3 separate regions of the Homo sapiens genome follow, and all the other regions are linked to region 1. The links come from fine-mapping of genetic effects on gene expression. A gene starts in region 1. Each other region holds a variant in brackets. All regions are shown on one strand. Distances are between the middles of the regions. Region 1 holds the start of ENPP5 (ectonucleotide pyrophosphatase/phosphodiesterase family member 5). Region 2 holds the start of LOC105375079 (a long non-coding RNA gene). Region 3 has its middle 31 kb from the start of ENPP5.

The links.
Region 2: its variant is fine-mapped to the expression of ENPP5 in fibroblasts (GTEx, PIP 0.97). The same link has a PIP of 0.9 or more in aorta.
Region 3: its variant is fine-mapped to the expression of ENPP5 in tibial nerve (GTEx, PIP above 0.99).

Annotation. Positions count from the first base shown.
Region 1 is chr6:46,166,052-46,176,304 of GRCh38, reverse strand. It overlaps ENPP5 (ectonucleotide pyrophosphatase/phosphodiesterase family member 5), which reads left to right and starts at 5,325. Exons shown (of 5, transcript NM_001290072.2): 1 at 5,325-5,497; 2 at 6,191-6,252; 3 at 8,008-8,871. The coding sequence starts at 8,043. RefSeq lists a silencer at 5,094-5,153.
Region 2 is chr6:46,210,485-46,220,257 of GRCh38, reverse strand. It overlaps LOC105375079 (a long non-coding RNA gene), which reads right to left and starts at 953. Exons shown (of 5, transcript XR_001743802.3): 1 at 908-953. The variant T/G (reference allele first, on the strand shown) is at 2,511.
Region 3 is chr6:46,196,773-46,207,025 of GRCh38, reverse strand. It overlaps the pseudogene ACTG1P9. Among named protein-coding and RNA genes, the nearest start is that of ENPP5, 31 kb to the right of the region's middle. The variant G/A (reference allele first, on the strand shown) is at 5,209.

The DNA of each region.
Region 1 (10,253 bases):
AACCTTTGAAAGACAGAACCCACCTGCATTCTTCTAAGGGCTTTTCTCCCCAACCAATTATGCAAATTGGAGCGAATCAGACAACCTTAGTCACACACGTGTATATAAATAGCTAATAGAGGTGGTGCATATGACATCTCTCCTGAGAGAAAAGCCTTAAGGCTAAGAGATTAATTTCCAATTATGAAATTGCAACCATCCAGGAATTGGGCAGGGAGAACTCTCCCATGACATCCCCCGCCCCTTCCCTGCCAAGAACACCTTAAAGGCATAAAGCACTTGCTGCCTGCTTGGCCTGTTCATAAAGATTCACACTTACCAAAGAATTCCTTGGTGCAACCTCAAGCTACAAAATTGTTGCAAAGAATATTTACATTTACATTTTAAGTGCAAATACCTAGAGTGGAAAAATGTATTTTTGATCTGGATAGAGGACAATATTTTTAGGTCCTCCCCCACTGCTAGTAAATTTACAGAATTACAATACCCATAAGGAGCCAATAAGTTTTTAAATAGTGATGTTAAACTAAGTATGTTCAGGCATCTAAGGGGTGTTATGTGCTTTACAAAGAACTGAGAATGTGGTTTTAACAAAATGTTTTCACCCCATATACCACAAACACATGTGCAGTTTCGTATTTGGCTCCTGAGAATATGTCTTACAAAATAGGCCTCAAACCAACACCAAAAGATGACTATCTCTCCTGCTATATGACTGCATCCTGCACTGAGTTAGTTATTCAACAAATGACATTCAGTTATGGCCTAGAAAATATTTGTAGTAGAGACGGGGTTTTACCATGTTGGCCAGGCTGGTCTCGAACTCCTGACTTTGTGATTCGCAAAATATAAAAATTTAGCCTGGTGTGGTGGCGCGTGTCCGTAATCCCAGCTACTCGGGAGGTTGAGGCAGGAGAATTGCTTGAATCTGGGAGGCAGAGGTTGCAGTGAGCCAAGATCACACCACGGCACTCCAGCCTGGGCGACAGAGCAAGACTCTATCCCAAAAAAAAAAAAAAAGAAAAGAAAAAGAAAAAGAAAGAAAGAAAGAAAAGAAAAAGAAAATAATTGTTTAGCCTTGTTTTGGTTTTACTTCATAGTTTCCTGACTTCATTCATGAGGGAAAAGGAATGACACCCAGCAGAGCAGGCCCCGTGGAGCTCCTGCACTTGCAAGCACTCACACCCTGCAGGAAGAACTGGTATACACCCGTACACACAGGAAAGGCCACTGAGAGTCAAACACCACCAGCACCAATTTGTGAACTTTGGTGAGGTGTGAGGTATTATCGCAGGGTAGGGTTTATTTATTGTTGCTGCTGTTTACTGAGGTATAATTTCCACACAGTAAAATTAAACATTTTTAGGCACATAGTTCTCTGAATATTGACAAACTTAGTGATGTGACTACAAAAGCAATCAAAATTCTATCACATAAAAAAATTCTTTGTGCCCCTTTCTAGCCAATCCCCTCCCCTCACCCCTAGTCCTTGGCAAATGCTGATTTGGTTTCTATTTCCATTGTTGCCCTTTCTAGAATATCATATAAACAGAATCACACAGTGTATGGCCATTTGTGTCTGGCTTCGTTCACCTAGAAAAACGCTTTTGAGATTCATCCATGTTGTTGCATGCATGAGTTCTGTATTCCTTCTTACTGCCAAACAGTACTGCATTTACGGACACACTACAATTTGTTTATTCACTAGTTGAGGGACATTTGGATGGTTTCTAGCTTTACATGATTATGAATAAAGCTGCTGTAAAAAGTTGTTGACCGGTTTTTCAGTGGACGTCTGTCTTCATTTCTCTTAGATAAATACTCAGGAGTGAGATTCCTGGGTTGTATGTCACGTGTATATTTAACTTTATAAGAAACTTCAAAACTGACTTCCATAGTGGAAGTCCATTCCCACCAGCAGTGTATGATAGTCCAGCAATATATTATAGCTCTGAATCCTTGTCAGTATCAGATGTTGTCAGTTACCTTGATTTGAGCCATTTTATTAGTAATCCATCAACTTTTGATCTAGGCTGGGCCATAAAATTAAACTTTCTGCTAGCTATATATACTGGGTTGAATAAGTGTCCTTCCGAAATACACATTCACCCGGAACCTCAGAATGTGACCTTATTTGGAAGTAGGATCTTTGCATATGTAATTAAATTTAGATGAAGCCATACTGGGCTGAAGAGGGCCTTAATCCCAATGACTGGTGTTCTTATAAGAAGGCCACGTGACACAGGGACACACAGAGTAGAGCATCCTGTGACAGGAGAGGCAGAGATTGGAGCTAGGCTGCAGCAAGCCAAGGAATACCAGAATCCCCAGCAGCTGTTAGGGCCAAGCAAGGATTCTTCTCAGAGTCTCGGAGAGAGCATGGCCCTGAATACATCTTGATTTCAGACTTCTGACCTCCAGAACTATGTGAGAATACATTTCTGTTTGTCGTAAGTCACCCAGTTTGTGATAATTTGTTAAGGCAGTCCTAGAACTAAAACACTATGAATACAATTTACAGAATACAACAATACAAATAGGTTTATATTTGACTTATATAAAGCTTTCTGAGGATAAAAGCATAATAATTGCTTCTACAAAATTCATTCTAATTAGTTCAAGCATATCACTAGAAGCCTAATTTATTAATATGCATAAAAATTCTTGGGCTAAGTTTTTGACTATTCTATAATTCAACATTTCACTCATTGGACTGAACTTCTGCTAATGAGTCAAGATTAGTGAAGACCACTGTTTATCATGAATTAAGAGCAGTGCAGAAGCAGAATCCCAGTGGTTCCTATCTATGGCCATTGAATATGTGAGACCCACATTTTGCAGAATGTTCTACAAAGGATTAAAAGATGAACTTTCTTTTAGTTTAGTCATTTGTGGTATAATGTACTGGAATGCACCTTTAAAATTTTTTAATTGTAAAATTATGTGTTTATTTTTCCTATCATGAAGTCTAGTTCTGAAAAACAAGACTTCTGTGGTAGAGCCAGTTCTGGTTGTTTCTTAAAGAACAGATCCCTTTTCAGTTTTAGCACAAAGCTCTTCCAGCCCCTGACGAAGAAAATTGTCCCTCTCTCAACCTGTATTAGACTTCCTTGGGGAGGCAGAGGGATCTCCCTCCCCACCTGACCCCAAAACCTTTGAAAGAAAGAAGTTGGTTATTCTGTTACACTATTATTCAATTAGAATTCCACTAATTTAATAACAGAGAATAAAAGAATAGTTACAGTCAATAGCAGGTTGTGGTTTCTGCTGCTAAAACTTTCTGAAAACCTATTGCAAATAGACAGATACTGAGGCAACAATAAGACAGGAGGGCAGGTGCAGATGTGGGAGCAGGAATCTCATGTTTTACATTCATTCCTCTATACTATGTAAACCAGACTTTCTCCCCATGAACAACATAAGGTAATAGCAAGCCTATCAGGTGAACATTAGATATCATTATATGGACTTCTGGGAGGAATCTGGCAGTCTTATGAGCACTTTTCTGTGTTGTGCACTGTGGTTACCAGCTGTACCATGCCTATTTCACAGGAATAGCTGGTGAATATAATCATAACTTCCATAAAATTTGCAGAGCAAAGCAGGTTGTCATCCAAACAGAGTCCAACAATGTTCAGTGATCCGAACAAAAGTCAGGCCCATTTTCACCACTCCTGCTCTCTGATAAGCGTACATTGTCCTTTGAGTGTTTTGGGAGAGCACAGAGTTGACCTATTCTGGGGGACAAGGACTTACAAGATTGGACCACTCTGTTCCAAGTTTGGGCAATTTCAAAGGACAGGGCTTTGGGGAATTGGAACAACTTGTTCAACTTCATTGTGTTTGGGTCTCACTAAACATAGAAACCAGCCTCCCTCTTAATCCCCATCCCACGTGTTGAAAACCATAAACTCAAGTTACCACGAATAAAAGGCCATGGAAGAGTGCCCAGATGCCCTTCGGGATGGGATGACCCAGTTAGGAGGTAACAATGTTTGGGGTTGAGATTGTCCCTCTATTAGAAGCAGACAGAGAAAAAGCTATGACCAAAATGTTTGCATGGCTTAATTAAATATCAACAGATATCTCTATTCACTTTAAAGCTCCAGCACACCAGACAAGGGATCCGAGCTCCGGGCAGGAGCCAAAACCACCATTGCAGATATGCTCCCAGTTTTACCAGCTAATTAGATGTTAAACTTACATTGTAACAATCAACCTGATATTATTGCCTACTGCAGATAGAACTAGAATTCTAATTAGGTCAGAATTCTAGCTGGGATTGTGTAGATGGACAAATTCTTTCAGGGTAGTTTGATATCACTGCTATAATTTATGGTAAAGACAGTTGGGATCATACTGGCAAACTAAGTACCTGCCTACACTCCCTCAGGCCTAAAAATGCCATTGATTATCCCAAAAAAACTGAGAAAATAATCCACTACAGTACGGAAAAAGACAAAATAGGGGCACTAACACACAAGAAGCACTGAAGGCTTTCTGAAAGAGTAATCAGGCCTGATGTTTGTAGTTTTAATGTTTACTTTGCAAACAAAGGTAGAAACAGAGTCTGGAGCTCGGATGCCACCACCAGAGAGGGTGGCTGTTCAGCCTCTCTCCTGTGCAAATTAACCTAATTCTGAACCTGTCTTGGTTTAATTCGCACAATTTCAGGTGCCATGCTAGGTACACCACAAATATACCTCAGGGACCTCAATTGCAAAAACCTGGACTGCAAACGTTGGGGCTGCAGAGTTGACTAGGTTAATAAATTCTTTCTGAGGTAAAGCAGATAACACCCACTAATAAAAAGAATGAAACTTCATCGTCCCATTGGCATCCTCGGGTGTGCAGGTGTTCCTCAGAGCAAAGCCCATGGTGTGCCCCATCGCCAATTCGTGACAAGGCAGGGGGCGGGGGGCGGGGGAAGGAAAAAAGCCTGGGATAAGAAATCAGAGAATACAAGTCGCTTTTAAACAAAAAACAGTGACTGTTAGAGTACACCCACCATTGGGGTAACACGCAATAATCTCTCAGCATCACTGACTCCAGCACAGCTGGTCCCCTGGAAAAGGCACGTTGCCGGAAGGTTTTGTGTGTGACCAAGCAATTGGCCATCCCACGCCTTCGCCCTACCAGATGGGTCCCTGCCCCCGGGAGTCCCCTCCCCCTCCACCCTCCAAACCCAGGCAGCGCCCGCCCCTGCCCCCGCTGATTGACAGGCCGTGCAGCTACTCCTGGGAGCCTGGCTTTCGGGGGCAACCCAGGCAGAAGTGACTATCTCTGCAGCAGCCAATAGAAGCCAGGAGGCGGGGCGGGGAAGCGGCGCGGTCAGGTGCTCCGCTCCAGAGTTGAGCGCAGGTGAGCTCCTGCGCGTTCCGGGGGCGTTCCTCCAGTCACCCTCCCGCCGTTACCCGCGGCGCGCCCGAGGGAGTCTCCTCCAGACCCTCCCTCCCGTTGCTCCAAACTAATACGGACTGAACGGATCGCTGCGAGGGTGAGTCCAGGGGCGTGGGTGGCTTCCCTCCCGGGAACCCACACTGCTCCTCTGGGTCCCTAAAGCAACGTCCCCTCCTTGCCACTGCACATCTAAGAAGCCCAGGCCTCGGTGGGCGGGATGACTGGGAATTGGGAACATAACCTACGCCGCGACCATTCTGGGTGGCTAGGATGGAATCCTGGTGGAGAAGATGGACACCCCCGCCCTTGACGTCTACCCGAGCTACACAAACCTACTCCTTCTGCACTTTCCCTCTTCCGTTTAATCGGTGCCCCGTCCTTCCTGCTCTCCAAGTCTGTTTGTGGAGGAAGGGTTGGAGGGGAGAAAGAACTGGAAAGTACTCAATGAAATGTGGAGCCAGATCCAGGGATTCCACTGTTTTGTGCAGCATTTTGTGCACGAAAAAAAAAAAAATTCTGATTGTTTTCATTCCCCACCCCCCACCTCTGTTTATTGCTCTGTGTCATGGATGTGATGTTGAGTCTTCTTGCCAAACATTCCTAAGCTTTAGACAACACTTAATCTTTGCTTACTTTTGTTGGTCCCAAGAAAGCAGTTTTCTCCTGCTTACACATGTGCCGAATTAATTTGCTAAGATAGATGAAAATGAGGTGTTCCATGTAGTTTATTTCCTCTGCTTTTAGCCTTAAATTACATTTGGTTGATACTAGCCTTCCTTGTTTTAAAAAGGTGGGAGAGAAAATTAGGGGGAGAAAGGACAGAGAGAGCAACTACCATCCATAGCCAGATAGGTGAGTAAATATATTTGCAGTAACCTATTTGCTATTCCTTGCTGCAACTGTGTTTAATGTTCCTTCCAGAATCAGAGAGAGTATTGCCATCCAAGAAATCGTTTTTAAATATGACATTTGAGCTATCATCTTGAGACCAATACCTAAAACAATTTCAGTTTAAGAAATGTCTAGGTATGGTGAAAACACAGTTTAAAACCAGCAAAACAGAATTTATTGCCCTCAGCGAATACCCACAATGTACATATACCTTGTATTTCTGAAAGCAAAGCAAGCATGCCAAGTAGTTTTTATTTACCTGTACCTATAATACAGCAAGGTGAAACAGGATATATTTTTGAAGTTTAAAAATGTCTTCAGGCCGGCTGCGGTGGCTCATGCCTGTAATCCCAGCACTTTGGGGAGCCGAGAAGGGTGAATCACCTGAGGTCAGCAGTTTTGAGACCAGGCTGGCCAACATGGCGAAACCCTGTCTCTACTGAAAATACAAAAATTAGCTGGGTGTGGTGGCGGGCGCCTGTAGTCCCAGCTACTTGGGAGACTGAGGCAGGAGAATTGCTTGAACACGGAAGGCGGAAGTTGCAGTAAGCTGAGATCGTGCCACCGCACACCAGCTTGGGCAACAGAGTGAGACTCCCTCTCAAAAAAAAAAAAAAAAGAAGTCTTCAGCTTAGGAAGATATCAAAAGGCAGTTTCAAGAGATTTATTTGTACAAGTGTGGTTTGATCTAAGTTTTGGTGGGTTTATAAATACCTTCATGCAGGAATGGGTAGAAAAATGAGAGAACAAAAGATCCCTGCTGGATGTGCACGCCTGATGAAAACTGACAAAATTTACATATCTATTGTTTATCCATACAGCGTCTTATTAGCTTTCTTCAATAGAATGAAAGTATTTTAGAAATATACACAGATTAGGGGAAAAGACCAGCAACCTTGATTCACAGAGCTTTAAACCAGGGAAGTGCTTTTACTACACCTATCAATGATAAGATTAAATTTTGACAAATTTTAACATTAGGAAAGTCAACAACAAATTTCAGAATTATATTTCTGTTAATATTTAGTTTAGAATCTAATTATTTAGTTCAACGAATGCTGTGATTTGATTATTAATAAATGAATGCAGATTACTTTTCAATAAATATATCTGGATGTCACAAATGTTATTTCACTTCAAGAAACCAAATTCATCTATTTTCCTCTCTCTTTAGTAATACATCTTTTGTCTGTGATTAACCAAACATAGGGGTTGAAAATAGAAGTGTGCATATACATATATATATAATATATATGTATATGCACCATTATTCGATTTGCTAATGATACTTCATTGTTGCTAGGTTGCCATAGTTGCTCTAGCCATAATGTTAAGGATGTTCACAGGTATTTGACTATAAAAAAGTTTCTGACCAGAAGTCAAAAGTCTGGATCAACCTGAAAATGTTTCTAAAAGTTTTATGTAAATGATGTCATATTTTAAAATGCTGTTGAAGAGCTCACTTAAATAATTCCTTTGAGGGATATTTAGATAAATTCTCAGAAGTGAAAAAGTTGTTTAAATGCAGCTAAACTTATTAGCTTTATTATTCATTTAGCCCCAGGTCTCTTATCTAATACGGAGTTCTGTGACATAATTCTTCCAGGCTGTGATTTATGAATATAACTAGGATTGCTAAGCACTGTTACTCTGAGTTTGGGGTAAAGTATACAAAACAAAATTATTGCCTTTAATTTCTATATGTTTATTCTACAGATTATCTTACACTGAACTGATCAAGTACTTTGAAAATGACTTCGAAATTTCTCTTGGTGTCCTTCATACTTGCTGCACTGAGTCTTTCAACCACCTTTTCTCTCCAACCAGACCAGCAAAAGGTTCTACTAGTTTCTTTTGATGGATTCCGTTGGGATTACTTATATAAAGTTCCAACGCCCCATTTTCATTATATTATGAAATATGGTGTTCACGTGAAGCAAGTTACTAATGTTTTTATTACAAAAACCTACCCTAACCATTATACTTTGGTAACTGGCCTCTTTGCAGAGAATCATGGGATTGTTGCAAATGATATGTTTGATCCTATTCGGAACAAATCTTTCTCCTTGGATCACATGAATATTTATGATTCCAAGTTTTGGGAAGAAGCGACACCAATATGGATCACAAACCAGAGGGCAGGACATACTAGTGGTGCAGCCATGTGGCCCGGAACAGATGTAAAAATACATAAGCGCTTTCCTACTCATTACATGCCTTACAATGAGTCAGTTTCATTTGAAGATAGAGTTGCCAAAATTATTGAATGGTTTACGTCAAAAGAGCCCATAAATCTTGGTCTTCTCTATTGGGAAGACCCTGATGACATGGGCCACCATTTGGGACCTGACAGTCCGCTCATGGGGCCTGTCATTTCAGATATTGACAAGAAGTTAGGATATCTCATACAAATGCTGAAAAAGGCAAAGTTGTGGAACACTCTGAACCTAATCATCACAAGTGATCATGGAATGACGCAGTGCTCTGAGGAAAGGTTAATAGAACTTGACCAGTACCTGGATAAAGACCACTATACCCTGATTGATCAATCTCCAGTAGCAGCCATCTTGCCAAAAGAAGGTAAGGCTGACTGAATGAATGGTGAGCTGAGACTAGATGTGCATTTGCCCAGTGTGATCAAATGAACAGGGATTTCTGTTGCTGCGCCTTTAAAGTAGACTTTGCCTGTGTCATGGTAATATTCTGGGATTTAATCCTCAGACTCTGAAAAGACAAAATCTCTTTTTTCAAAGCCTAATTTTTTTTTCCTTTTTCCTAGAATACTGAAATTGATGTGCTCTATGTATGTATGGCAGTAGGTTTTAACCATTTTGGATCCATAGAATATTATGAAAGCTATAGCCTCCCTTCTCAGAAAAATTGAGATGGAAAGATACATACAAAACTTGAATGCATGTACAGTTATTTCATAGAAGCCCCAAAGCCTTTTATAGGTTCCTAATTTGGACCTGCTTAACAAGGAAGCTGTGGAAGATAAGAAGGAGAAAGAGCTTTGGTCAATCTGAGGTTTATTTTCCTTATAAATGTGGAAAGTAATAACAATACCTTAAACTTTTTACAAACCTCTCCTGGAATCCTTATACCAAACCTGTCACCTCAGTATTGTCTCCATTTTAAAGAGAAGTAAATGACAGGTAAGTGACCTCAAAAGGTTTAACATCCTGAGGTCACAAAATAAGTGACAACATGACTCAGACATGCTCTTTGACATATTTTATCACTTTGCAGGGTTGGTCTTAGGTATCAAATGAGAGAACAGATTTTGAAAAGCTATAATATTTCACAAATGAGAATTCCATCCCTCAGAGGGGAATTAGAATCATATGAAACAGCGAATGTTAAAATATGTGTGTGTTTTACACACACAGTTTTCAGCAAACAGCACTTTTTTTCTGGTTTAAGAAAATTAGCTAGGAGTGGTTGCTCACGCCTATAATCTCAGCACTTTGGGAGGCTGAGGCAGCAGGGTCACTTGAGGCCAGGAGTTTGAGGCCAGCCTGGGCAACATAGCAAGACTCTGTTGCTAAAAAAAAAAAAAAAAAAAATAGCCTGGTGTGGTGACACATGCCTGTGTCCCAGGCTGAGGTGGAAGGGTTGCTTGAGCCCAGGAGTTCTAGGTTACAGTGAGCTATGATCATATCACTGCACTCCTCCTTGGGCGACAGGGAGACACAGTCGAAAGAAAAAAAAGAAAGAAAAAGAGAGACTGAGGGGGAAAGAGAGAGAGAGAGGGAGGGAAGAGAAGGGGGTGAAAGAGAGAGAGAGGAGGGAGGGAAGGAGGAAGGGAAGAGGGAAGGGAAGAGGAAATGGAAGGGGAGAAAATTACATTAACCCTTCGATTTCCTTTATAAAATTGGAATGATGTCCTCTTGTTGCGGTGCAGAAGATAAGGATGCAACCTCAGCAATGGATTTGAAAAACAGGAGGATGAAAGACAGTGC
Region 2 (9,773 bases), 44 kb before region 1:
AATGAAAAGGGACAGCATCAGACTGGAAAAGGATATTTGAGACACATGTAGTTGTAAAATAAATTATATCCAAAATGTAAAAAGAAAACCCTACAAATAAGGAAAACAGACAATCCATTTCTTTGATCATCAAAAAATTTCAAAGGCACTTCATACAGGCAATTCACATACACACAGACATACACAAAATACCCAGATGACCCATTAGCATTCAAAAGATGCTCAATTTTATTGCTTATCTGACAAAAGCAAATGATAATCTCAGAGCTACTACACAGATCTATCAGAATGACTAAAATTAAGTCTGGAGAAATAAAAAGTTCTGGTAAGGATATGAAGGAAGGGGAACTGTCATGCACCACTGGTGGAGTGTCAACTGGTGCTCACTTCACAGCACTGTTTGGTAATATCTGCTAAAGCTAACATGCCTCTGGGAGCAATTCACTCCAGGGCATGCACCTAGCAGATACAAGTGCACACATCTATCAAAATACTTGTACAATAATGTCCCTAGCAAAGTTGTTCATCATAGCCATTAACTGGATACAGCCCAAATGTCCTTCAACTATAGAATAAACTGTGCTATCCTCACACAAAGGAATGTCACAAAGCAATAAGACACATAAACTAGTGGTACATATATGAACATGAATAGATCGCAAAATCATATTTTGAGCAAAAAAGAAAAACTAGACATGAAAAAAATACATAGTATATGACTCCTTTTAGCAAGCTAAGAAAGTCAAAACTGGCCTATATAAATAGAAATAATAGTGGCTATTATGAAAACACTTAGGACTGTAAGGTCCCCCAACACCACCCCCAAACTAAAAAAAGTGCTAAGAGTCCAAAGAAGGACTCAGACCTAAGTCCAGCATGAGGAGTAGATGAGTTTATTAGGACTTACATACGGGGCACTCTGGGATGGCGGCAGGATAGCTCTGGAGATCTGCCCCACCTCCCATCCATAAACTGCTTTTAAGCTAATTTCCTGGCTCTTTGCCTACGTGTTTGAACAATGAGACTGTTTTTCTTGGTAGTTCCTCAGAAACTCTCTGGGAGGTTTGGCTTCTCAGGGACACCTGCTCCTCAGCTCGGCACCAGGGTCTTGGCTCACTGTCCGGCCCTCAGAGTTCAGGCAACAGACTTATACCCTTCGGTAACCTGTTGGGGGACCTGTCACAGTACAGTGGCTACCTTTTGAATGGTACTGCCTGAGAGGAACCCTCTCATGTGGAAGCCTTCCAATGTGCCATCAATATTCTACATCTCGATCCTGATCTCCATATGGATGTATACCCATGTAAAATTCAGTTAAAATGTGTGCCATATACTACAGTAAGTTATACCTCAACTAAAACAAAAGCTGTTCTCCCTGAGGACAGAGAAGAAGGAGCCATTAGTTGTGATGGGGGTTTAGAATGTCCTCATACTAAAAACGTACGTCTCCCATCTCATGTCTGTGAGATATTTCCATATTTTCAAAGCCTTCATTTAAAAATCTATAAATAAGTGTTCCTTTTTAAATGAGAGAGCACAGGACTTAGGCTCTGGGTGAAACACTGTTCATTCAAGTAACAAACTGTGTGCCTGACACTGGGTTTTCAGTGGTGAACAAGGTAGCTTTTGTCCCTGCCATTTCAGGGAGTGGAGTCTAGCATGGAAAAGAGATAAGAAATAAACAAGCAAATAATGGCCACAAATTCTCATAGGTAAGTACAGTGAAGAAAACCAAAAGTACTCTATGAGAATAGAGAATAAAAGTGGAGGATCATAGTCAGGGAAGGCCTCTCTAAAGAGGTAACATTTAAGCCGACCTGGAGGCACTGGCCATGGAAATGCTGCGAGAAAAGCATTCCAGGCAGCAGGGCTGAAGGCTGTGACTCTGGAAAGGCCTTGTCTTGTCGTGTTGGAGGAGCCTGAAGGATTTTGTTGGTATGGCTGAGGCACAGGGAGTGAGGGTGAGCACAGTTTAGGATGAGGTTGGAAGGCAGGTGGCGGAGGAAGGCAGGCTCAGTAGAACCTATTATTAATAGGCCAGGCTAGGGGGTTTGAGTTCATTTTAAGGGTTTCAAAAAGGGAATTATATGACCCAATTCATTGGTAAATCCTAACACAAACAAGAAGTTTCCTAATACAAAGCTACAGCCCAAAATGTCCAGATCCTCTGTAGCACTGGGGCTTGACGGGTCTTGCCCACATTAGGCTTGAAGATAGCTTTTGATAGCCTCGTGCTCCTCACTGCAATCCTATCTATTAACACCAGAAGAATTCTCAATATCCAACATCAATATGCAGTGTCTTGTGGTTCTAAAGTTTTTTTTTACTTCCCCTCCCCACGTCATTTAGAAAGCCTCAATGCAGAAAAAGGGGAACAGAGCAGGTGATAAAGGATGATAAGTCAGTCAGTGATTCAGGGAAACATTCATTTAGCTGCTGGTACAGAGTGTCCCTGCCAGAAGCCACCACGCTGAGCGTCATTGAACATTTGGCAGCCTTTCCCCTTAAAT[T/G]TATGCAATCTGAGAAAGGGAAAATTTCAAGCAAAAAGTTTTCTGTCAAGCTCATTCATCTGCACCTTTCAAAGAAAGTCTGGGCAAATGTTTTTGGAGTTGATTCATGAGCTTTTTATGTCTCTAAAAGGAAGCCATATTTAAGGTTAGTCGTGTGTATGTGTACGCAAGCACATTTGGTACAGGTTGGAAATAGGAAATCCAAAATAGGCAGAAATGGATGAAACACTTTGTGCTAAAAAATTCATCCACAATACCTCCTTGGTGCTTTTGTGTTATTTTCCATTCTCAACCAATAATTGAGTTAGAAAACTTTTAGGGTTGGACAGGACTATGGGGCCTCCTTGACTAGTTGCTATCATTAGGAAAATCATTACTGTTCCCCAAACAATCTTTGGATTTGCCAGTAGGGTATTTTATTCTTAAAACAAGATTTATAGTTTCCGTACAAAGCTGCCAAGTTCAACACCTTGATAATCCATCTGATGTGCTGTTGTGGATGCTGTAGTCCCAGTTCCCCACTTCAGAGTCCCAGCTCCCCACTTCAGAGTCCCAGCTCCCCACTTCAGAGTGGAAACACTCATGCCCCCAGATGTTAGGAAGGTTGGTGGGTCATGACTCGCTGCTGAGTGGCCAGGCATTGCACTCAGCTGGAGAGATGCTCCCCACCCAAGGTCTCACCCTCCTCAGGGACAGCCTGCATCCAGTGACTAGTCAAGGAAGGCCTTCCCTTGGGCCACTCCAGCTCCAGAGCTATCCCTGTGGGATAGGCTGAGGCCCGGTATTTCAGTTCAACTCTGCCTTTATCCCCAACAGGTAAGGACTCTAAAGTCTCCCTAGTAAACCTCCTGCATGTACATCTCCCTCTCAGAGTCTAAGTCCTAGAAAAACTAACCTGACACTTACATCATCCTCAATAGCTTCTTCCATCACTTTGAGCGCCCCGGAATTGTACAACTCTTTTCCATCAATCGCTGCTGTTTCATTCTTAAGATGGATTGGTTATGCTAGGGGTTAGCATATTTTCCAAAAGCAGTGCAGCAAAGTTCTTCATGCTTTCTTTGTGCTGTCCTGCTGAGTTCAGGTCAGGGGTAGGTAGGGTAGACGTGCAGGTGACTTGGCACAAAGTTCCTCAGTGGAGAAAGGAGGGCTTCTCTCAACCATCCCTGTGGAGTGAGGAGGACAATGGATGCCTGTTCAGCTGTTGTCAGGAGCCTTCATGAAAAACACGGGTCTATAACAGGGAGGGTAGAACCCAAATTCTGGCCCATGTGCCACCCTCAGGCCACCTCAAAAGATGTCACCACCTCCCTGTCAACCTTGTATATGAGAAAGGGATGAAGATTGTGCAAGCGACTTTAGACAAGTTACTATAGTCCCTACAACTCAGTTTCCTCTCCTGTAAAATGGGCATAAAAATCCACTTTTGTCATGAGGACTTAATAAGATAATAACAGTAACAATTATTATTGGAGGGCCGGTTAATAACTACATTCACAAGTTTTGCTGCCACAAGACCTAGGTTTAAACCCCAGCTCTGCTGCTTGGTAAACTTGTGGTCTTGGACAGTTTTTTTAAACCTAAGTTTTGGTTTCCACATTTATCAAAAGTAAAGGATGATAGTATCTGTCTCAGAGAGTTAGGAGGGATTGAATGAGAAAGAGTATCAAGTGCTGGGTACATAGGAAGTCCTCACCCAGAGCTCTTTATGCATCAGGCCCCACACAGAGCACCTGGCATTTGTACCCTCAGTCTTCATGATGGCACCTTCACTGTTTCCATTCTTCAGAAAGAATAGTCAGCATTTTTTGAGTGCTTACACCGTGTCAAGAGCTCTTAAAAGTTCTTTACATTCTTTTTTTTTTTTTTTTTTTTGAGACGGACTTTTGTTCTTGTTGCCCAGGCTGGAGTGCAATGGTGTGATCTCAGCTCACCGCAACCTCCGCCTCCCAGGTTCAAGAGATTTTCCTGCCTCAGCCTCCCCAAGTAGCTGGGATTACAGGCATGTGCCACCATGCCCAGCTAATTTTATATTTTTTAGAAGAAATGGGGTTTCACCATGTTGGTCAGGCTGCTCTTGAACTCCCAACTTCAGGTGATCCGCCCTCCTCGGCCTCCGGAACTGCTGCGATTACAGGCTTGAGCCACTGCACCTGGCCAAGTTCTTTACATTCTTATTTAATTCTCTCTATGCTCTTATGATGAAGGCACTGATACCCACATTTTACATGTAAGGCAACTAAAGCCCAGAAAAGCTAAGTCCTTGGTACTCAAAGCATGTTCTACGCACTGCAGCATCTGCATCTGCATCCCGGGAGTATCTGCATCCCCCGTGGAGCTGGTTAGAGACGCAGAGTCTCAAGCGCCACCCCTGGCCTACTGAAACAGAATCTGCCTTTTAACAAGATCCTCCCTTGATTCCCAGTACTTTAAAGTTTAAGAAGCACTCAAGATCAACCGCCTAATATATCCCCAGCAGGGCTATGATTGCAGAGCACATACTTTTAACTGCCTCTGTGTATGAAATGCCCATCAAAAAAAAGTGCTCAAAGCATATAATTTTCCTTCCCCCAGCAATTCATTTGACTGAGCTTCCTCCTCTGTTCCTGTCCACAGTCCATTCTTACCCACTGTGCTGGCCTTGCTGTTTTCGATAGAATCTCCAGGTATTGCTGCTATGCTCCAGGTTCTGATAAACTTCCGCCCAGGGTCATTCCAAATATCTCTATTAAAAGTGCTTCTGAATAAGCTACAATGTGATTTCCAGAAAGGCAATTATTCCAGGAGTACACCAGTGTTCTGAGAATAGCCACTCCTAGCTTTACTGGGAGTAACAGGATGGTCTCAGACAGGCATTAGTGCCAGAAGCTGCCATGTGGATAATCTTTCCCTGAGAATGAAGGCAATCAGGAGAAAAGAAGAGCTGAAATGCTGAAAGAGAAGAAGAGGGATGGGAAGTGAGTTTAATGTTATTATTTGAGTGCCTAGACCAAACTATACCTGATACTCATATCCCCTGGACTTTTCAGATGCCTGAAGCAACAGATTTTCCTCTTCCTCAAACAAGCTTAAGTGGGGTTTCTTCACTCTCCACTGAGTGGCTGACTGAAAAATAAAGAAAACATAATATTTCTGTGGGATCGGTGGTGATATCCCCTTTATCATTTTTTATTGTGTCTATTTGATTCTTCTCTCTTTTTTTCTTTATTAGTCTTGCTAGCGGTCTATCAATTTTGTTGATCCTTTCAAAAAACCAGCTCCTGGATTCATGAATTTTTTGAAGCATTTTTTTGTGTCTCTATTTCCTTCAGATCTGCTCTGATTTTAGTTATTTCTTGCCTTCTGCTAGCTTTTGAATGTGTTTGCTCTTGCTTTTCTAGTTCTTTTAATTGTGATGTTAGGGTGTCAATTTTGGATCTTTCCTGCTTTCTCTTGTGGGCATTTAGTGGTATAAATTTCCCTCTACACACTGCTTTGAATGCGTCCCAGAGATTCTGGTATGTTGTGTCTTTGTTCTCGTTGGTTTCAAAGAACATCTTTATTTCTGCCTTCATTTCGTTATGTACCCAGTAGTCATTCAGGAGCAGGTTGTTCAGTTTCCATGTAGTTGAGCGGTTTTGAGTGAGATTCTTAATCCTGAGTTCTAGTTTGATTGCACTGTGGTCTGAGAGATAGTTTGTTATAATTTCTGTTCTTTTACATTTGCTGAGGAGAGCTTTACTTCCAACTATGTGGTCAATTTTGGAATAGGTGTGGTGTGGTGCTGAAAAAAATGTATATTCTGTTGATTTGGGGTGGAGAGTTCTGTAGATGTCTATTAGGTCTGCTTGGTGCAGAGCTGAGTTCAATTCCTGGGTATCCTTGTTGACTTTCTGTCTCGTTGATCTGTCTAATGTTGACAGTGGGGTGTTAAAGTCTCCCATTATTAATGTGTGGGAGTCTAAGTCTCTTTGTAGGTCACTCAGGACTTGCTTTATGAATCTGGGTGCTCCTGTATTGGGTGCATATATATTTAGGATAGTTAGCTCTTCTTGGTGAATTGATCCCTTTACCATTATGTAATGGCCTACAAAGCTGGAGGCATCACACTACCTGACTTCAAACTATACTACAAGGCTACAGTAACCAAAACAGCATGGTACTGGTACCAAAACAGAGATATACATCAATGGAACAGAACAGAGCCCTCAGAAATAATGCCGCATATCTACAACTGTCTGATCTTTGACAAACCTGAGAAAAACAAGCAATGGGGAAAGGTTTCCCTATTTCATAAATGGTGCTGGGAAAACTGGCTAGCCATATGTAGAAAGCTGAAACTGGATCCCTTCCTTACACCTTATACAAAAATCAATTCAAGATGGATTAAAGACTTAAACGTTAGACCTAAAACCATAAAAACTCTAGAAGAAAACCTAGGCATCACCATTCAGGACATAGGCATGGGCAAGGACTTCATGTCCAAAACACCAAAAGCAATGGCAACAAAAGCCAAAATTGACAAATGGGATCTAATTAAACTAAAGAGCTTCTGCACAGCAAAAGAAACTACCATCAGAGTGAACAGGCAACCTACAAAATGGGAGAAAATTTTCGCAACCTACTCATCTGACAAAGGGCTAATATCCAGAATCTACAATGAACTCAAACAAATTTACAAGAATAAAACAAACAACCCCATCAAAAAGTGGGCGAAGGACATGAACAGACACTTCTCAAAAGAAGACATTTATGCAACCAAAAAACACATGAAAAAATGCTCACCATCACTGGCCATCAGAGAAATGCAAATCAAAACCACAATGAGATACCATCTCACACCAGTTAGAATGGCAATCATTAAAAAGTCAGGAAACAACAGGTGCTGGAGAGGATGTGGAGAAATAGGAACACTTTTACACTGTTGGTGGGACTGTAAACTAGTTCAACCATTGCGGAATTCAGTGTGGCGATTCCTCAGGGATCTAGAACTAGAAATACCATTTGACCCAGCCATCCCATTACTGGGTATATACCCAAAGGACTATAAATCTTGCTGCTATAAAGACACATGCACATGTATGTTTATTGCGGCACTATTCACAATAGCAAAGACTTGGAACCAACCCAAATGTCCAACAATGATAGACTGGATTAAGAAAATGTGGCACATATACACCATGGAATACTATGTAGCCATAAAAAATGATGAGTTCATGTCCTTTGTAGGGACATGGATGAAATTGGAAATCATCATTCTCAGTAAACTCTCGCAAGAACAAAAAACCAAACACCGCATATTCTCACTCATAGGTGGGAATTGAACAATGAGATCACATGGACATAGGAAGGGGAACATCACACTCTGGGGACTGTGGTGGGGTGGGGGGAGGGGGGAGGGATAGCATTTGGAGATATACCTAATGCTAGATGACGAGTTAGTGGGTGTAGCGCACCAGCATGGTACATGTATACATATGTAACTAACTTGCACAATGTGCACATGTACCCTAAAACTTGAAGTATAATAAAAAAAAAAGAATAATTTGGGCTTTTAATAAGACAGTGGAATCCACTGGAATGGAAAAAAAAAAGAAAACATAATAGATACATATGTAAAGTCCTGTATTTATTTATTTATTTATTTATTTATTTATTTATTTATTTATTTATTTATTTACTGAGACAGGGCCTCACTCTGTCACCCAGGGTGGAGTCCAGTGGTGTGATCACAGCTCACTGAAGCCTCAACCTCCTAGGTTCAAGGGATTCTCCCACCTCAGCCCCTCCAAGGTAGCTGGCACTACAGGTGTGCACCACCACACCGGGCTAATTTTTTGTATTTTATTTGTAAAGATGGGGTCTTACTATGTTGCCCAGGCTAGACAACTCCTAGGCTCAAGTGATCCTCCTGCCTCAGCCTCTGAAAATGCTGGGATTACAGGTATGAGCCACCATGCCCAGTCACTGTTTGTTTTAAAAATGTAAATGCACAGGGAGAAAGAGAAGAGTTTGGAGAAGAGATAATAGAAGTTTGAGAGCCTTAGTTAATCAGCAACGCAGTATGTGTAAATACGGGGGAAGGGCAAAATCTGCTGTCTATGAGTTTCTGTTTAAAATGGTAGATGAAGGACATATATTTATTGCCCATCCAATCCCCAGAAATCTCCTGGAAATTACACAGAAGGTCATCAAAGGAAATATATATAATAGCCCTGCAACCCAATAAAGCATATCAACAGCTGTCTAGAAAATCTAAGTCACTTCTGGAATGCAGAAAGAAGTCTAACAGAGAAGCTAGAAATGACACAGCCTCAACAGATGACATGGAGAGATGAAGGCTACAGTGGATATGGGAGGATTCTTTCCAGCTGCGTCTAAGAGGCAATTCAAGCTTAGAGTCAATAAATATAAAAAGAAGTGGCAGGAAGTTAAAGATATGCATTAGAAAGAGTTGGAGCCAATTGAGCCCATCATCATCACTATTGCTGGCCCTATTTGCAGAATTGCCCCAAGGCCAAATTCCTAGGACTTGTCTTACCTGGTAAGGACTCCTAATGGGATTTGGGGAGCCCATCAGAGCCTCCGTAATCATACCTGACCTCCACTGAACACATGAATGAGAAAAAAAGTTTACTTCCTAGTTATGATGGAGCATATTTCCCAGTATCTTCACTGAAGAAGTGGAGCATGGAAGGTAAGTTTTACAAGATCTTGCATGTTTGAAAATGTCTTTATTGCACCTTCACACTCACATAATAGTTGGTTTGTGGAAATTTATTCAGGGTTTTGATGGCATCACTCCATTGCTTTCCAGCTTCTAGAAGGCCTATGTCATTCTAAATTCTGACCCTTTTACGTAAACTGTATTTTCTCCTGGAAGCTTTTAGGGCTGCTTTGTCTCAACTGCTCTGAGTTTCATGTATTTGATTTCTTATAAGTCCTTTCAACCTAGAAATTCATATCCTTCCATTGTGGACATTTTTCTTGAAGAGAGTGTATTAGTTCATTCGCGTGCTGCAAACAAAGACATACCCAACTGGGTAATTTATGAAGGAAAGAGGTTTAATGGACTCACCATTCAACATGGCTGGGAAGGCCCCACAATCATGGTGAAAGCCAAAGGAGAAGCAAAGGCACGTCTTACACAGCGGAACGCAAAAGAGAACTTGTGCAGGGAAACTCCCATTTATAAAACCATCAGATCTTTTGAGACTTATGTGCTACCATGAGAACAGTATGGGAGAAACCACCCCTATGATTCAATTATCTCCACTTCGCCCT
Region 3 (10,253 bases), 31 kb before region 1:
AGAGGGTTTCACCATATTGCCCAGGCTGGTCTTGAACTCCTGGGCTCAAGCGATGTGCCTACCTCAGCCTCCCATAGTGCTAGGATCAAGATTAAGGAGTGACTGGGCAAGTCCAAGCAGCTAGCCAGCCTTGGGTTCTGCAGGTATGGCTGTGATTTTATGCCATTGGTTCTGGTGGTCGTCTTCTACAGGTTAAATATCAATAGGGACAATTCTGGGTCCTATGGCTGTCTAAGGACAACAGCAAAGATTCAAGGAATCTCTGGTGGTTGTCAGCCCAATTCAGGAAGATCAGGTCAGGGGGATTCTAAGAACATGGAAACCCCCCATCCCCTTCTCTGCTTCTGGGGACAGGTTGTCTGTCATTACCCACTGGGCCTTTCCTTCCCTGCCCTTTTTTCCTCTCTCTTTCCTGTACCCTTGAAGATAAAAATTGGAGTCTGCTTTTTAAGATAAAAGTTGGAGGACTTTTCCAACCCTGACAGACTGGTAGGACAGAAACAACTGGTTCAGGAGCCCTTGCCAGCCTCTAGAGAAATCCCAGAACACACAGCCCTGGCACATTAATACCCTGCACAGATCAGAGACTGCTGGCCACGCAGACTCACAAAGCCACAGACTTGTCTTCCACAAGCACATTCTTACCTCAGCCACGAAGTGACCAAGCCATGTGTACTAAGGGGTGAAATCAAAGATATGTACAGGGTATTAAACAAATACCAAGGGCAACAGTTATCTGGAATACAAAGTCAAAATCAGCAACAAGTTCTATGCTCCAGTGCTGATATCAGATACAAGCTTCAAGGACAGTTTCTTTTCAAAGGCTTATTCCAGTATCGTGAGGCTAGCATGAGGTATATGCATTTGCCAGGGGCAAATTTATACTTCTGAATTAACCCATGCAGCAAATGCTATGCATCTGCTCGCAGTCCATTTGCGGTGGATGATGGAGGGGCCCGACTCGTTGTACTCCTGCTTGCTAATCCACATCTGCTGGAAGGTGGACAGTGAGGCCAGGATGGAGCCACCGATCCACACAAAGTACTTGCACTCTGGGGGCACGATATCTTGATCTTCATGGTGCTGGATGCCAGGGCAGTGATCTCCTTCTGCATCCTATTGGGGATGCCAGGGTACATGGTGGTGACGCCAGACAGCACTGTGTTGGCGTACAGGTCTTTGGGGATGTCCATATCACACTTCATGATGGAGTTGAAGGTACTTTCATGGATGCCACAGGATTCCATGCCCAGGAAGGAAGGCTGGAACAGTGCCTCGGACACCGGAACCGCTCATTGCTAATAATGATGGCCTGGCTGTCAGGCAGCTCGTAGCTCTTCTCCAGGGAGGAGGAGGATGCAGCAGTGGCCATCTCCTACTCGAAGTCCAGAGCGACATAGCATAGCTTCTCCTTGATGTTGCGCACGATTTTCCACTTGGCCATGGTGTTGAAGCTATAGCTGCGCTAGGTAGGGATCTTCATGAGGTAGTCAGTAAGGTCCTGGCCAGCCAGGTCCAGATGCAAGATGGTGTGAGGGAGGGTGTGGCGCTCGTAGATGGGCACTGTGTGGGTGACCCCATCTCCAGAGTCCATGACAATGCCAGTGGTGCAACCAGAGCTGTGGAGGGTCAGCACGGCCTGAATGGCCACGTACATGGCCTGGGTGTTGAAGGTCTTAAACATGATCTGAGTCATCTTCTCCCTATTGGCCCTGGGGTTTAGCGGGGCCTCGGTCAGCAGCACCACCTGCTCCTCCAGGGCCACGCACAGCTCGTTGTAGAAAACATGGTGCCAGATCTTCTCCATGTCGTCCCAGTTTGTGACGATGCCATGCTTGATGGGGTACTTCAGGGTCAGGATGCCGCACTTGCTCTGGGCCTGGTCGCCCACGTAGGAGTCCTTCTGGCCCATGCCCACCATCACGCCCTGGTGCCGGGGGTGCCCGATGATGGAGGGGAATATGGCTCGGAGGGCATTGTCCCAGCAAAGCTGCTTTTCACATGCCGGAGCCATTGTCAATGAAGAGCGCGGGGATCTCTTCTTCCATTGCCACTGGCAGAGGAGCACGCAGCAGCGGGAGGACATGGTGCACGTGCTGGTGGTGACGACTGAGCATCTTTATAAATCTTATCATAAAACTGAAAAATATTTTATACAACACTACATAAAAACTTTCTACCTCTTATGGAAAAAAAAAATGCCTCATTACCTGATCTGTTCTCAGCGATTTCCTCCATCTCAGAGCATCAGAGAGAAGAGACCATCGTTCATTCATTCAACAAACATTTATTGAGGGTCTACTATGTGCCTGTGCCAGGCACTGTAACAGGCCTTGGAAAGATAAGACAGCTCAGTGAAAAACACAGCCCAAGTCCCTGCCCTTACTGAGCTTACATTTTATAGGCATTTAGTGGTTAGGAAATACTACAGACTGAATTATATCCACCTCCAACCCCAAATTCATATGTTGAAGCCATAACCCCCAATGGGACTATATGTGGAGACAGGGCCTTTTGGTAGGTAATTAATGCTAAATGGGGTCATAAGGGTGGGGCCTTAACCCAGTAGAACTGGTGTCCTTATAAGAAGAGGAAGAGGCTGGGTGCTGGTGGCTCACACCTGTAATCCCAGCACTTTGGGAGGCTGAGGTGGACAGATCGCAATGTCAGGAGATCAAGACCATCCTGGCTAACACGGTGAAACGCTGTCTCTACTAAAAATACAAAAAATTTACCAGACATGGTCGTGGGCACCTGTAGTCCCAGCTACTAGGGAGGCAGAGGCAGGAGAATGGTGTGAACCCAGGAGGCAGAGGTTGTAGTGAGCTGAGATCACGCCACTGCACTCCAGCCTGGGTGACACAGCGAGACTCCTTCTCAAAAAAAAAAAAAAAAGAAGAAGAAGAAGAAGAAAAGAGATGCCAGAGACTGCTCTCTTTCCACATACACAGAGAGAAAAGGCTGTGTGAGGAAACAGCTAGGAAGCAGCCTCTGGAAAGCCAGGAAGACAGGCTTCACTGGAGCCTCACCCTGAAGGCACCTTGATCTTGGACTTCTCACCTCCAGAACTGCAAGAAAGTAAATTTTTGTCTTGCATAATACCTAGACTGTGGTATTTTATTATGAAAGCCTGAGTAGATTAATGTAAAAAGTGTCAATGGCTACTGTAAAATAGAAGAGGAGAAAGGAAAGAAAGGAAATTGCTCACAGAACAGGAACACTGAATGATTGTAATCACTATTTTGAATTTTTTAAAAGTTATTTTACAAGATCCCTTATTCTTTATGGATTCCAGTAGAGGAAAATCTACAACTTCCCATGATACACCCCTTGATTCCCTGGCTTCCTCAGCACCATCTACAGCCTTTTGCTTCATGGTTATGTCTAATGTTTATCTGCCTCCCGAGGCTCATATACCACTCCCATAAGATGTGCTGGCCTCATTCAGACACCAGCTGTTGCTGCTCAGAGGCTGCTCTAAATATAACTGCATTCCTCTCAGGGTTTTCTCTTTTCTCCAGTGAATCAAATGCTTTGATTCTCAGTTCTGGTTTTAATTGACCAACCAGGTAATTTATTTCCAAATATAAGCAATCTCCCTTCTGTATTTCAGAATCATAAAAGATAGTCTGCTCTCCTTTGACTTTTGAATTAGGTAAGCATATACCCCAGCTAATGGCCACATGGGCCTATCCCCTGATCCCTCAACTAAACTCTGGGTGTTTGTATGTGTTATCTATTGCCATTTAATAAATTACCATAGTATAATGGTTTCAACAACACACATTTATTATCTCCACATCTGTGGGTCAGGAATCCAACTGAGCTGGGCCCCCTACTTCAGGGTCTTTCACAAGGATACAATCATATTGGTGACCAGGGCTAGGGTCTCATCTGAAAGCTTGGCTGGGGAAGGATCCACTTCCAAGCTCACTCAGGTTGTTGGCAGAATTCTGTTCCTCAAAGGCTGCTGGACTGAGGGCCTCAGTTCTTTGCTAGCTGTCAGCCAACAGCCACCCTAAGATCCTTGCCACATGAACCTCTTCTTGCTACATGGGGCTCTTGAACATGGCTATTTCCTTCACCAAAGCATGAAAGCCAAGAAGACAAATAGAGAAAATCTGCTAATGAGACAGAGGTTACATGCTTGTAACATAATTATGGAAATGATAGCTCATCACCTTTGTTGTTATCCTATTAATCAGAAGCAAGTCACAAGTCCAGACCACTCAAGGAAGAGTAGGTTCATATGCAAGGAGGCAGACATAATCAGGGATATCAGGAGGCAGGCATAATCGGGGCTGTCTCAGAAACTTCCTCCCACAGTATTGGTGAGCAGAAAAGAAGCCACTTGTATCCATTACTCATCCCTACATCTCTTCTGCTTACTTTCTTATTTCTTAAGAAAAGGAAGTTTTAGGAAGGTGATACTGGTTTGGCTGTGATCATCAATCTCCTAGACAACATAGGTCAATTCTATGAAATTTCTCCTGCACTCCAGACACCTCTTAACATGAGCCACTTCGATGACCAATAGGTACCCTCTATTAAACCCACCTGACATGGGATGTACATAATGTCTGCCAAAAACTACCCTTCCTTTCTCAGGGAATGAGCCATACTATCAGAATTTCTCAAGCCAGAAACCAAGTTACCCGACTCCTTCCTCTCCATCACTCTGCCTTTATGGAGTAAAATATTAAGCATGTATTTCAAAAAAAGTATAAATTATGTGGAAGGGAATCTATGAATAAGGGTAGCTATTTGGTCATTATGGAGATAGGGTAACGCAACAAGGGAATTTCCATGTGATTTGGGTAAATTAATTGGCATCTCTAAGATATAGTTTTCTCAACTAAGAATGGAGGGATAATAATAGTAGGCATAAATCAAGGAATTGTTGTGAGGATCAGAGGAAATTACATCTGTGAAACGCTTGTATATCTTACATCCCACAAGCCCTCTATATATGTTAGCTACTATATCAGCTGTTAGAGAACCACATTATGGCTGTCATCGTTTGCTCACTAACTCAATAGTGTCTTCTCTCTTACATTGTCCACTTCAGAGACTAAGAAGCTAATTACTCATTTTCCCAGCCTCTCTTGTAGCTGGGGCTTCCCAGGGGACAGAGTTCTCGAAAAGCTTTTGTTTTTCTGATGAGAACATCTTTCTTCCTTGAACAAAGATTCAGTGTCTGCTGTGTCA[G/A]CAACCATCTGTGTCCATGAGGTAGCAAGCATTTAGTTGAACGTGAGTACACTAAGGATGGTGGAGTGGAATCCCTGAGGATTCTGTCAAACAGCAGAACCAATGCCAGCATTCAGTTACCTGAAGGCTCCTTGTTACCTAAGAACATGAAACCTCTCCATGTTTAAGCTACTGTTGATCAGGAATTCTGTTATTTGCAGCTGAAAGCACTCCTAACAGATATATTTGTCAGTAGCCTAGAAGTCAAATATCTGAAATTTTAAGTCCATAAATTTTGGCCAAGATCATAACCTCTGTCAACTCAAGGTTTGAAATCCTGTCTCTTTACACACTGGATAACTTTTTATATAGTGTAAATTCAGAAAAATTATGTGGCCTCTCTAATGTTCTCTGTTCTTCTTGCTAATGTACTATGTTTACCTAAAAAGTGCATCCCTAACAGTGAAAGCAGCCCCAGATATTCCAGGCTCCAATATTATGTCAAAGAAGTAGTAAGAAGAAGAAAGGTAGCAATACTAAAAAGAGGCATAACTTCAGAAAGAGACAACAAACAAAAGAGGAAGGAGAGAAATATAGAGATATAACCATGTAGAACATCAGCCCTTGGTGTCCAAAGTTTTATTTGGTATTTTTATTTTTAGAGATGGGGTCTCATGCTGTTGCCCAAGCTGGAGTGGAGTGGCGTGATCATAGCTTACTGCAGTGTTAAACTCCTCGGCTCAAATGATTCTCCAACCTCCTAAGTAGCTGAAATTATAGCACAAGCCACTGCACTAACTAGTTTTTTTGCTTGTTTGTTTGTTTTTAATAGAGTTGGGGTCTTACCATGTTGCTCAGGCTGACTTCAAGCTCCTGATTTCAAACAGTCTTCCGTCTCGGTCTCCTAAAATGCTGGGATTATAGGTGTGAGCCACTGTGCCCAGGCTAAAGTTCTTACAGTATTGATCTTAGACGTTGCCCTCAAGCATACATTTATTATGTGACTTTCTCCCACATTCTGTCTCTTCCTAAGAATTCTCAAGCGGGATATTTCAGGATCATAAAAGACATATATATATATATATACATAGAGATATCAGACAGGCAATATACAAAGTAGATAAGTGTCTATCCAATGTAAGTTAAGGGCCCAGTGAAAACTTACCTTCTGCAAAATATCTGGTCTATACTCCTGCCTGTAAGTGCCAATACCTGGCTGAAAATGTTATCTTGAGACTTACTAATGTGCAGATGATACAGCAATGGACTGACTCTAGAACTGCAACGGCCACTAGCCACCTGTAGCTATTAGACACTTGAAATGTAGCCAGTGCTGTATATTGAAGTTAAGGGCCCAGTATGTCGAATACATTAAACGAACAAGTCAGCAGAGCTTTAATAAACAATCAGATTAACAGCCCAGTAGGAGAATTACAATCCCATAAGTAGTAGATTTAAATCCTCACTGGTCCCAAGTTGTGGGTCAGCAGAAGCATTTGCCTGTGAATTTTGGGGGCAACAAAGAGCCATCACATCACTTGGTGGTCTCTGTGTGGGTTCCTTTCAAATTTATTCCTATTTAAGAGTAGCAAAAAGAGGCATTTTCCAGATGACAAGATTTTGTGTTTTAGAACACTCTGTAAGCCAAAGCCAAAACCTTCCACATTTTTTTTAAATAATAAAGAAAAAAAGAGAGACATATACTTGAGTGTAGAACTACTACTCAAATTTGAAAGATGTTTAACTCAAACAAACGCTCTAAGTATAGGGATCTCCTAGCAGGGCTTCTCCCTCTCTTTGCAGCAGAAACTGAGCTCTTCCAGAGCCTTCAGGTCTTCAGCCAGCTTAGTTAGTATAAAAGGGAGGCAAATACTCACACAAGCACTAAACTCTGAATGCAAAACAAAAGAGTTCCCTTCTCCCCCAAATCAACTGGTGAATAGCCAACAGGAAGATCCTCTAGATGACTATCTTTGTGTGAATTAGAAATTGGAATTTCAGGGAAGCCATCCATAGAGGAGCAGAAAGCTGAGAATACACCTCCTTTGCATGTGGACAGCATCCCAAAAGACGGAACCAAGAGTCAGAAGATAGAATGCTGTGGTGGTTAAAGGTTGCTAAGGAATCTCCACCTCCAGAAAAAAGTATTCCTTTGCTTGTGTGCTTCCTTGCGTTCTTACCCAAGTTGCGTAAGAACTTATCCCAGGGAAACGTGGCCTGTTTCCTTGGCAGTGCCTCTATCTGTGTCCTCACAAAAGAACACTGACTCACTTGGTAGAAAAGACAATGTGATACCCTGATGCTGGTGAAACTGTTCACTGTAAGAGTGCAGTCAACTCTTAAATTCAGTAGGTTCCAATGCTTGACTTTGGGATTTGGCCAGAATGATATGTTCCAGTTCCATCTCCCTCCTACTGTCTGTGAATTGGTCACTTTATTTGCTATCACGGAAGACACAATTGGTTGCTTTTCCCAAAACTATTACACCATATTTTTTCCTTGCTTGCAGAATAGTTAGAGGCTAAAATTGCCAGATACTTATTTCCTAAGCATCCGTGAAGTCTATAGTGGATTTTTGGAAAAGGTTTTCTCTCTGTAAATGGAAACACTGGCAAAGAGATGCCCCATTTCATTCCACTTTAGTTTACAATGGCTGATATAACAAATTACCACCAACTTGGCGGCTTAAACCAACAGATGTTTATTTTCTCACAATTCTGAAGGACAGACATCCAAAGTCAGTATCACTGGGTCCAAATCGAGGTGTTAGCAGGGCCGCACTCCCTCTGGGGCCCATGCCTTGCCTCTTGCAGCTTCTTATGGCAGTAGGCATTGCTTAGTGTCTACATCACTCTAATTTATGTGTCTGTGGTAACATTGCCTTCTCTCTTCTGTGTCTCAAATCTTCCTCTGCCTCCTTTTTGTAAAGATACTTGCGATAAATAATTAGCTGGGCATGGTGGCATGCACCTGTAGTCCCAGCTACGTGGGAGTCTGAGGTAAGGGAATTGCTTGAACCCAGGAGGCAGTGGTTGCAGTGAGCCAAGATCACACCACTGCACTCCAGCCTGGCGACAGAACAAGACTCCATTTCAAAAAACAAACACACCCCAAAAAAATACTTGTGATAGCATATAGGGACCACTCAGATAACCCAGGATAACCTCGCCATCTCAAGATCCTTAATCACTTCTGCAAACTCCCTTTTTGCCATATAAAATAACATTGCCAATTACCAGGGTGATATGGTTTGGCTGTGTCCCCACCAAAATCTCATCTTGAATTCCCGCATGTTGTGGGAGGGATCTGATGGGAGGTAGTTGAATCATGGGGGCAGGTATTTCCCATGCTATTGTTGTGATAGTAAGTCTCAGGAGATCTGATGGTTATTACAAAGGGGAGTTTCCCTGCACAAGCTTTCTTCTCTTGTCTGCCACCATGTGAGACATGCTTTCTACCTTCCACCATGATTGTGAGGACTCCCCAGCCACGTGAAACTGCAAGTCCATTAAACCTTCTTTTTTTTGTAAATCGCCCAGTCTCAGGTACATCTTTATCAGCAGCATGAAAACGGACTAGTACAGTAAATTGGTACCAGTAGAGTGGGATGTTGCTGAAGATACCTGAAAATGTGGAAGCGACTTTGGAACTGGGTAATAGGCAGATGTTGGAACAGTTTGGAGGGCTCAGAAGAAGATAGGAAAATGTGGGAAAGTCTGGAACTTCCTAGATACTTGTTGAATGGCTTTGACAAAAATGCTGATAGTGATATGAACAACGAAGTCCAGGCTGAGGTGGTCTGAGATGGAGATGAGGAACTAGGGAACTGTAGCAAAGGTGACTCTTGTTATGTTTTAGCAAAGAGGCAGGTGGCATTTTTCCCCTGCCCTAGAGATTTATGGAACTTGAACTGGAGAGAGATGATTTAAGGTATCTGGCAGAAGAAATTTCTAAGGAACAAAGCATTCAAGAGGTGACTTGGGTTCTGTTAAAGGCCCTCAGTTTTATAAGGAAAGAAGAGCATAAATGTTTGAAAAATTTGCAGCCTGACAATGCAATAGAAAAAAAAAATCCCATTTTCTGAGGAGAAATTCAAGCCAGCTGCAGAAATTTGCATCAGAAACGAGGAGTCAAATGTTAATTTCCAAGACAGTGGGGAAAATGCCTCCAGCCATGTCAGAGATCTTCATGGCAGCCCCTCTGATCACAGGCCTAGAGGCCTAGAAAGAAAAAAGGGTTTCATGGGCTGGGCCCAGGGTCCCTGTGCTGTGTGCAGCCTAGGGACTTGGTGCCCTGTGTCCCAGCTGCTCCAGTCATGGCTAAAAGGGGCCAAGGTACAACTGAGGCTGTTGCTTCAGAGGGTGGAAGCCCCAAACCTTGGCAGCTTCCACGAAGTGTTGAGCCTGCTGGTACACAGCAGTCAAAAATTGAGGTTTGGGAACCTCCACCTAGATTTCAGAGGATGTACGGAAACACCTGGATGTCCAGAAGTTTGCTGCAGAGGTGGGGCTCTCATGGAGAACCTCTGTAGGGCAGTTTGGAAGGGAAATGTGGGGTCAGAATGCCCACACAGAGTCCCTATTGGGGCACCACCTAGTGGAGCTGTGAGAAGAGGGCCACCATCCCCCAGACCCCAGAATGGCAGATCCACAAACAGTTTGCACCATGTGCCTGGAAAAGCTGCAGACACTCAACACCATTCCATGAAAGCAGCCAAGAGGGAGACTGTACCCTGCAAAGCCACAGGGGCTGAGCTGCCCAAAACCATGGGAACCCACCTCTTGCAACAGCATAACCTGGATATGAGACATGGAGTCAAAGGAGATCATTTTGGAGCTTTAACATTTGACTACCCTGCTAAATTTCAGACTTGCATGGGGCCTGTAGCCCCTTTGTTTTGGCCTATTTATCCCATTTGGAATGGCTGTATTTACCAAATGCCTGTATCCCCATTATATCTAGGAAGTAACTAAGTCGCTTTTGATTTTGCAGGCTCATAGGTGGAAGGAACTTGCCTTGTCTCTGATGAGACTTTGGTCTGTGGACTTTTGAGTTAATGCCGAAAT